Homo sapiens: one gene and its partner. The protein of the gene in region 1 interacts with the protein of each later gene in a pairwise test. Each region holds a gene or a part of one and is shown on either strand. Other genes may lie near its edges.

The links. Proteins that work in one complex are often made in the same cells at the same time.
Region 2: the proteins of TXNDC11 (region 1) and RACGAP1 interact in a two-hybrid assay, tested with the Homo sapiens proteins (one large-scale study listed by BioGRID and IntAct).

Annotation. Positions count from the first base shown.
Region 1 is NC_000016.10:11,732,810-11,736,461, forward strand, and holds part of TXNDC11 (thioredoxin domain-containing protein 11), read right to left. Parts: intron 3,425-3,652; coding exon 3,208-3,424; intron 1,271-3,207; coding exon 1,173-1,270; intron 1-1,172. UniProt on the Homo sapiens protein: May act as a redox regulator involved in DUOX proteins folding. The interaction with DUOX1 and DUOX2 suggest that it belongs to a multiprotein complex constituting the thyroid H(2)O(2) generating system.
Region 2 is NC_000012.12:49,994,428-49,998,079, forward strand, and holds part of RACGAP1 (rac GTPase-activating protein 1), read right to left. Parts: intron 2,778-3,652; coding exon 2,613-2,777; intron 83-2,612; coding exon 1-82.

The DNA.
Region 1 (3,652 bases):
CACTGTTTGTGCATGTTTGCTATAAATCCCCATTGATTATGGCCCAAGAACTTTAGAAGGAAAAAGGAAAGCTCTCTACTGATCAAATCTCCTTTACCCATTTTACTTTCAACAAACTTCAAGCCAATCACCCTGAACAAAGTCCAAAGTCCTATCTCCTATCTCCAAAACTCTTTGAGTCAGATTTTTAGACATTACTTATCATTCACAGCAGGGTCTGGGCTGTACTCTAGTACAGCCTAGGTCGAGACCAGCCTGGCAACATGGTAAAACCCCGTCTCTACTAAGAATACAAAAATTAGCCGGGCGTGGTGGCAGGCACCTGTAATCCCAGCTACTCGGGAGGCTGAGGCAGGAGAACGGCTTGAACCCTGAGGCGGAGGCTGCAGTGAGCCGAGATTGCACCACTGCACTCCAGCCTGGGCAACAAAAGCTAAACTCTGTCTCAAAATAAAATAAAATAAAATAAGATAAAATAAAACTCTTTCCGTTTTTCAGCCCTCTTTGTGACTTTAGAATTGTGGACATGGGCGGTAAAACCCTGTCTCTACTAAAAATACAAAAAAAATTAGCTGGGCAGGGAGGTGGGTGCCTGTAGTCCCAACTACTTGGGAGGCTGAGGCAGGAGAATGGCGTGAATCCGGGAGGCCGAGCTTGCAGTGAGCGGAGATCGCGCCACTGCACTCCAGCCTGGGCAACAGAGTGAGACTCCGTCTCAAAAAAAAAAAAGAATTGTGGACATGGGACTGTGTACTTGTAGTAATTTTCTTCCCAATAGAATAGATGGTAAGATACACTCTGGACTCTGCTATGCCTCCAGATGAAACGATAAGAAATTTTGTGTATTTTTACAAAACACTCTTACGATATCTGAAATGCATTGGAGTAATTCGTACTTTTAAAAACAATGCTGTAAAATGTGTAATGACATGAAAAGATGCTCAAAAAAGTGAGAAAAGCAGTTTAGGAAATAGTATTACTGCCTGATCCCATGTTTAGCTTTAAAAAGGGGGGTGGATTATCCAGATCTTTCTTTTTTAATTTTTGCTTATCTGTATTATCTGAATTTTCTATAGTGAATATCTAATACTTTAATATAGAAAAAATGCAAAATTCATTTATAAACTGGCAAACTAAACTGGAATGAGAGACGCTATTTAAAAAGTTCTTACCTCCGATGATACAGATATATTACAGGAAAATAAAAGAAGTGTTTCTGTTTTCTGCATTTCCCCTGGTTCCACCAACAGTTAATTGCCACAAACAACACCTGCAGAGCCAAAAAAGGTTTTCAAATGACTATGAATAACAACTGAAAAGTTACCAAGATTTAAAAGATGAAATTTAAAAATAGAATGATTCCTCTCTCACTGAAACAGAAACTATGAAAAAAACTGTTTTGAGTTTTCAAAGGTCATAATTTATCACTAAAACAAAAAAGAAAGACATACTCTTATCTATGATGTCCAGGCAGGACTTGGACCGTGTTTACCAATCTTACCATGCAATACAGTTCAAAAGATTTCTGTGTGTTTCCAAAAATAAACCCACTTTTTTCCCTACTGAGTACATGGAATAGTAAGCTCTCAATTTGGAAGGAGCTGAAATTTTTTTTTTAAAAAAAGCAGCAGTCCCTGGATTGCACTACAACCCCCACCACTACGTGATGGTAAACAAACTGCTTCACCCCTTATGCCTGCAGTCCTGCTTCAGAAAAACAGGGCTGACAGCATCGCCTTGCAAAGTGGTTGAGAATTGGCATGGGGCCTGGCACACCAGAATATCATTATTATTATACTAATGCCATCACTCAGAAGGACATACTGCTTAGGCTGACAGTAAGGTAGCTAATTCACACTTATTAATAAAACACAATAGATATCCCTCTTGTGCCCAACATGGGCAACGTGAACTTTGTTCTCTAAATTTGGAAGGCTCCACAGTTTCTAAGAAAAACCAAATGACAGTTCCAAATGAACTTCTGGAACTCAGCTGCCTACACACGTTACTTCACATCAGTGGTTCTGAGCAGGAGAGTCTTAGAAATCTGTGGGATGCTTTTGGCTTGCTACAATGACTGGGGGAAGCTACAGTGCATACGTAGGGCAGGGGTGTTGGTAGATGTCCTGCTACACTCAAACCTGCTTTGCACACGGAAGAGTCGTCCATAGCATTCCAGAGGAGTTCAAAACGCCTGCCAAACACTGATGTTGGGGAAAACCTGTTATTATCAAAGCCCAGTACCTAGCTCCATTTTACATGTGAATCTAAAGCATGCTTTTTGTGTTCACTGAATTTTTCAGGAATGCAACTTCTATGTAAACTGAGAGCAGAAAGGGCTTTGCATAGTTCAGGATTTTACCAAGACTGTTCACCATTTAGGATAATCAATTACTAAGAGCAATGTCCATGTGGCAGGTAAGTCACCAACATATCACCTTTATCAGTCTACGTTTGTAACTATCCCATTCAGTGATTCTACATAAAGGTATATGGACCTGTTCTGACTGTGCACTTACATACTAAAATATATATCATTTAGTTACAAATTACTTTCTTCCCCCCTCACCTCTATGTTACAATCCGTGCATTAGATTATTTTGAAATTACATGTATAGGAAAACTTTATCATCTATGAATTCCTTTTTAGGAAGAAAAAGGGACATCATAAAATACTTATTTTCTAAAGCACAACTGGGGTCCACTGGGCTGAAAACCACTGCCATAACAGGTGACTTATTTGCCTATATATCTTTCTTACCTAGCCCAAAGGTGGCATTCCTTATCTGCTGAATATAGTTCTGGTCCATATATTAAAAAGGTCGGCCTTGTTACAATGCAGTCATATCATACATACATTTTCTTACCTAAAATACCTAACTAGCAAGTATCAAATGGATATGCAAGAACTAGGATTTTCAGTCCCTCTACCTTTTTCAATGCTGAAACCAAACAGTATGGCACCCCAGGATAAGCATTGGCTTGTGTTATGAGATTCAGAATCTGCTCCCACACTTGCCTTGGAGTACAATCGCCACAATTGGAAATCCTTTCTGTTGCTTTATAGAAAGCTCTGTAACTTAGAAACGACTCCTGGAGTTCACCTTGGCAAAGTCTGCCCGTTGGGCAAGGTGTCTCTGTGGGGACATCCTGCCCTACATATAGGACTGACAGTCATTTGATTCTTAAGCTGAATGTGAGCATTACCTGATCTGAAAGCCGACTTGCTGCTTGCTCAATTTCTGCCCTGGCAGCGATGGACTGTCCACACCAAGGGGCATAGAAGAAGAGCAGTACCACCTCTGAATCCCGTCGAACGTACTCTGCATAATCCAGCTGCCCCTGGAAGAGGTCAAGGACTGGAGACCTCAAGGAGAAAAAGCTGACAGGTGGCTTTGCTGGTATTATCACATCTTTTGCTCGACTAAAAAAGAGCAAACACAGAAAAGATTGCTTAGTTTATCTTCTTCTAAAAATAGCTCTGTGGAAGTAGAATGAAGCTTAAAAGGAAAATCCTCTTTTGAATAAGAAAATGGAGTCCCAAAATCACTGCCCTAGAAAGGCAACATCTGGCTGAGCAAATGCAAGACATGAATAATACGTTGGAAACAATTCTCTGAGATTCTGTCCCCTAGGTGTAGGCTGGAAGGGC
Region 2 (3,652 bases), on another chromosome or scaffold:
TTTGCTCAATCTCATTTACACAATGCACAACAATGGAGGGGATCATTGGAGAAGTCTGGGACACAAAGTCTGCCAGCATTCCCTGGAAAAAAAAAAGAGCTTTAAATTATTATTTACGCCATGTAGACCAACAGATGAAGACCACATGCGAAGAACCACCTCCAATCTTATTCTCAAACTGGGACATCATGTCTACTTTTACATTCCTATTCCCAAAGCATATATTAAAACAGAGACTCTCAATTATTTTTCCTACCTCCACACCAGGACTGATTTATTATCATATATACCACACTTTTTCTTTTTCATATATACACCACACTGTTATGTGAACAAGGAATAAGACCACCAGCTATAATTACCTCCTTCTCATCCACTCAAGGACAGCAGAAAACAAGCAATAATGAGGTTACAGGTATAGCCTTTAATATAAAATAATTTATTACTCTAAACAGATTTTTTTTTCTAACAGAAGAAAGCTGGAACAAGAGAAAAAAATTGTGTATACTTTCATTATTCTCAGTAAAAAAAATTATTTAACATATCTTATCAGTTGATTATGACACAAACCTACCTGTAGGGGAGAACTCCATGGTTCTATATTAGAGTACAGAACATGTGTAAAAAAAATGTACAGGCGGCCAGGTGCGGTAGCTCACGCCTGTAATCCCAGCACTGTAGGAGGCCGAGGTGGGCGGATCACCTGAGGTCAGGAGTTCGAGACCTGCCTGACTAACATGGAGAAACCCTGTCTCTACTAAAAATACAAAATTAGCCAGGCATGGTGGCGCATGCCTGTAATCCCAGCTATGAGGGAGGCTGAGGCAGGAGAATCGCTTGAACCCAGGAGGTGGAGGTTGTGGTGAGTCGAGATTGCGCCATTGCACTCCAGCCTGGGCAACAAGAACAAAACTCCCTCTCAAAAACAAAACAAAACAAAACAAAACAAAACAAAATGTACAGGCATGGATAAGAACTTGTAAGATCAGGGGAAAATAATATTTGATTTGCTGAAGAGTAGGTAGGAAGATAGTCATTTTGATTCTTGCTAATGTTACTTACATAATAATTTTTTTTTTTTTTGAGATAGGGTCTTGCTCTATTCCCCAGGCTGGAGTGCAGTGGTGTGATCACAGCTCACTGCAGTTTCAACCTCCCCACCTCAAGCAATAGTCCAACCTAGCCTCCTGAGGAGCTACAAACACAGGCGCACACCACTAACCTGGCTAACTTATTTATTTATTCTTTGTAGAGATGGAGTCTTGCTTTGTTGTCCAGGCTGGTCTCAAACTCTTGGGCTCAAGTGATTTTCCTGCCTCAGCCTCCCAAAGTGCTGGGATTACAGGCATGAGCTACCACACTCAGCAATAAATAATTTCTTAATGGATTTAATCAGTTTGGATTAAACTGGTTAAATATTTGGAAATAAGCAACTTCATTTTGATAACCTATTATGAAGTATGTCTAACATAAGAGCAAGAATAAAAGATAATTTTATCACAGATAAAATTATATGATAGCTGAGATTTGCTTCCAAGTAATTCATTGGACAGAGTCAGGAGGAGGCAACGACAGTATTGATAAATCAAGAACAGACATAAAGGCTGGGTGCCATGGCTCACACCTAGAATCCCAACACTTTAGGAGGCCGAGGCAGGCGGATCACTTGAGGTCAGGAGTTCAAGACCAGCCTGGCCAACATGGCAAAACCCCGTCTCTACTAAAAATACAAAAAAATTAGTTGAGCATGGTGGCACATGGCTGTAGTCCCAGCAACTTGGGAGGCTGAGGCATGAGAATCACTTGAGCCCAGGAGACAGAGGCTGCAGTGAGCCAAAGTTGCAACACTGCAATCCAGCCTGGACAACAGGGAAACTCTGTCTCAAAAAAAAGAGAGACATTAAAAAAAGAATGGACATGACCAGGCGCGGTGGCTCACGCCTGTAGTCTCAGCACTTTGAGAGGCTGAGGTGGGCGGATCACTTGAGGTCAGGAGCTTGAGACCACCCTGGCCAACATGATGAAACCCCATCTCTACTAAAAAATACAACCAAAAAAAATTAGCCGGGCATGGTGGTGGTACATGCCTGTAATTCCAGGTACTTGGGAGGCTGAGGCAAGAAAATCGCTTGAGCCCAGGGGGGCGGAGGTTGCAGTGAGCTGACATCCTGCCAGTGCACTCCAGCCTAGGCAATAGAGCTAAAAAAAAAAAAAAAAAAAAAAAAAAAAAAAAAAAAAAAATGGACACAAGTTAGTAATCATGGAAGTTAAGTGATAAGAACCAGGGGTTAGTTATACTAATTTCTCTAGTTTTATATATGTCTGAAATTTTCCAAAATGGGATGAAGGGGAGGAAGGAAGGAAGAAGAGGCAAGGAGAAGCAGGGAAGAGCAAGAAGGAAAAAGGGGCGGGGAAAGAAGTTTGGTTTAGAAAGGTATTAGACAGACAAACCCAAACAGGACTCTTCTACAAGTAAGTATCTTACAATTCTAGTCATTATTTGTGGAAAGAAATATATTTGAGATGATTAATTTTAGAACAAAAACTGACACTAAGCCTTTGAAAGGCGAATAAAGAGGCCATAAAACAATGACGGCTTGCATAAGTCATACCTCTCCAATCTTGACAGGTGTTCCTATCAGGGTAGGAATGCAGGGAAGGGGACAGCGGTCCCGACATTCTGGATGAGAGACCACACGACAGTCTCGACACTTCAGAGATAATTTGCCAAATTTTATCCGCTTTCCACATGGAACACAGGATTCAGGTTTAATAACCTGGGATAAAACAGGGCAGAAGGAACAGAGTGATATGAATTAGAAAATTATCATCATAATCAACTAACTTTTTTTTTTTTTTTTTTTTGAGACCGAATCTCACTCTCTCGCCTGGGCTGGAGTGCAGTGGTGTGATTTCAGCTCACTGCAACCTCTGCCTCCCAGGTTCAAGCGATTCTCCTGTCTCAGCCTCCCGAGTAACTGGGATTACAGGTGCCCACCACTACGCCCAGCTAATTTTTCGTATTTTTAGTAGAGACAGGGTTTCACCATGTTGGCCAGGCTGGTCTCGAACTCCTGACCTTGTGATTCACCCACCTCGACCTCCCAAAGTGCTGGGATTACAGGCGTGAGCCACTGGGCCTGGCCTTTTTTTGTCTTTTTTTGAGACAGAGTTTCGCTCTTGTTGCCCAGGCTGGAGTGCAATGGCGTGGTAGAGGTTGGCTCACTGCAACCTCCACCTCCCGGGTTCAAGCGATTCTCCTGCCTCAGCCTCCCAAGTAGCTGGGATTACAGGCATGCGCCACCACGCCCGGCTAATTTTTATATTGTTAGTAGAGACGGGGTTTCTCCATGTTGGTCAGGCTGGTCTCGAACTCCCGACCTCAGGTGATCTGCCTGCGTCAGTCTCCCTAAGTGCTGGGATTACAGGCGTGAGCCACTGTGCCCAGCCATAATCAACTAACATTTATTGAGCACTTAGTATGTGCCAAAAAATTTTCTAAGCCCTTTAGACATATTTACATATGTAATTCTCACAGTAATCCCATAAAATAGGTTTTGTTTTCTTCATTTTAAGATGAGGAAACAGAAGCAAAGAGAGTTTAAGTAACTTGTTTAAGGTCATCCCACTGGAAGGCAGCAGTGTGTGATAG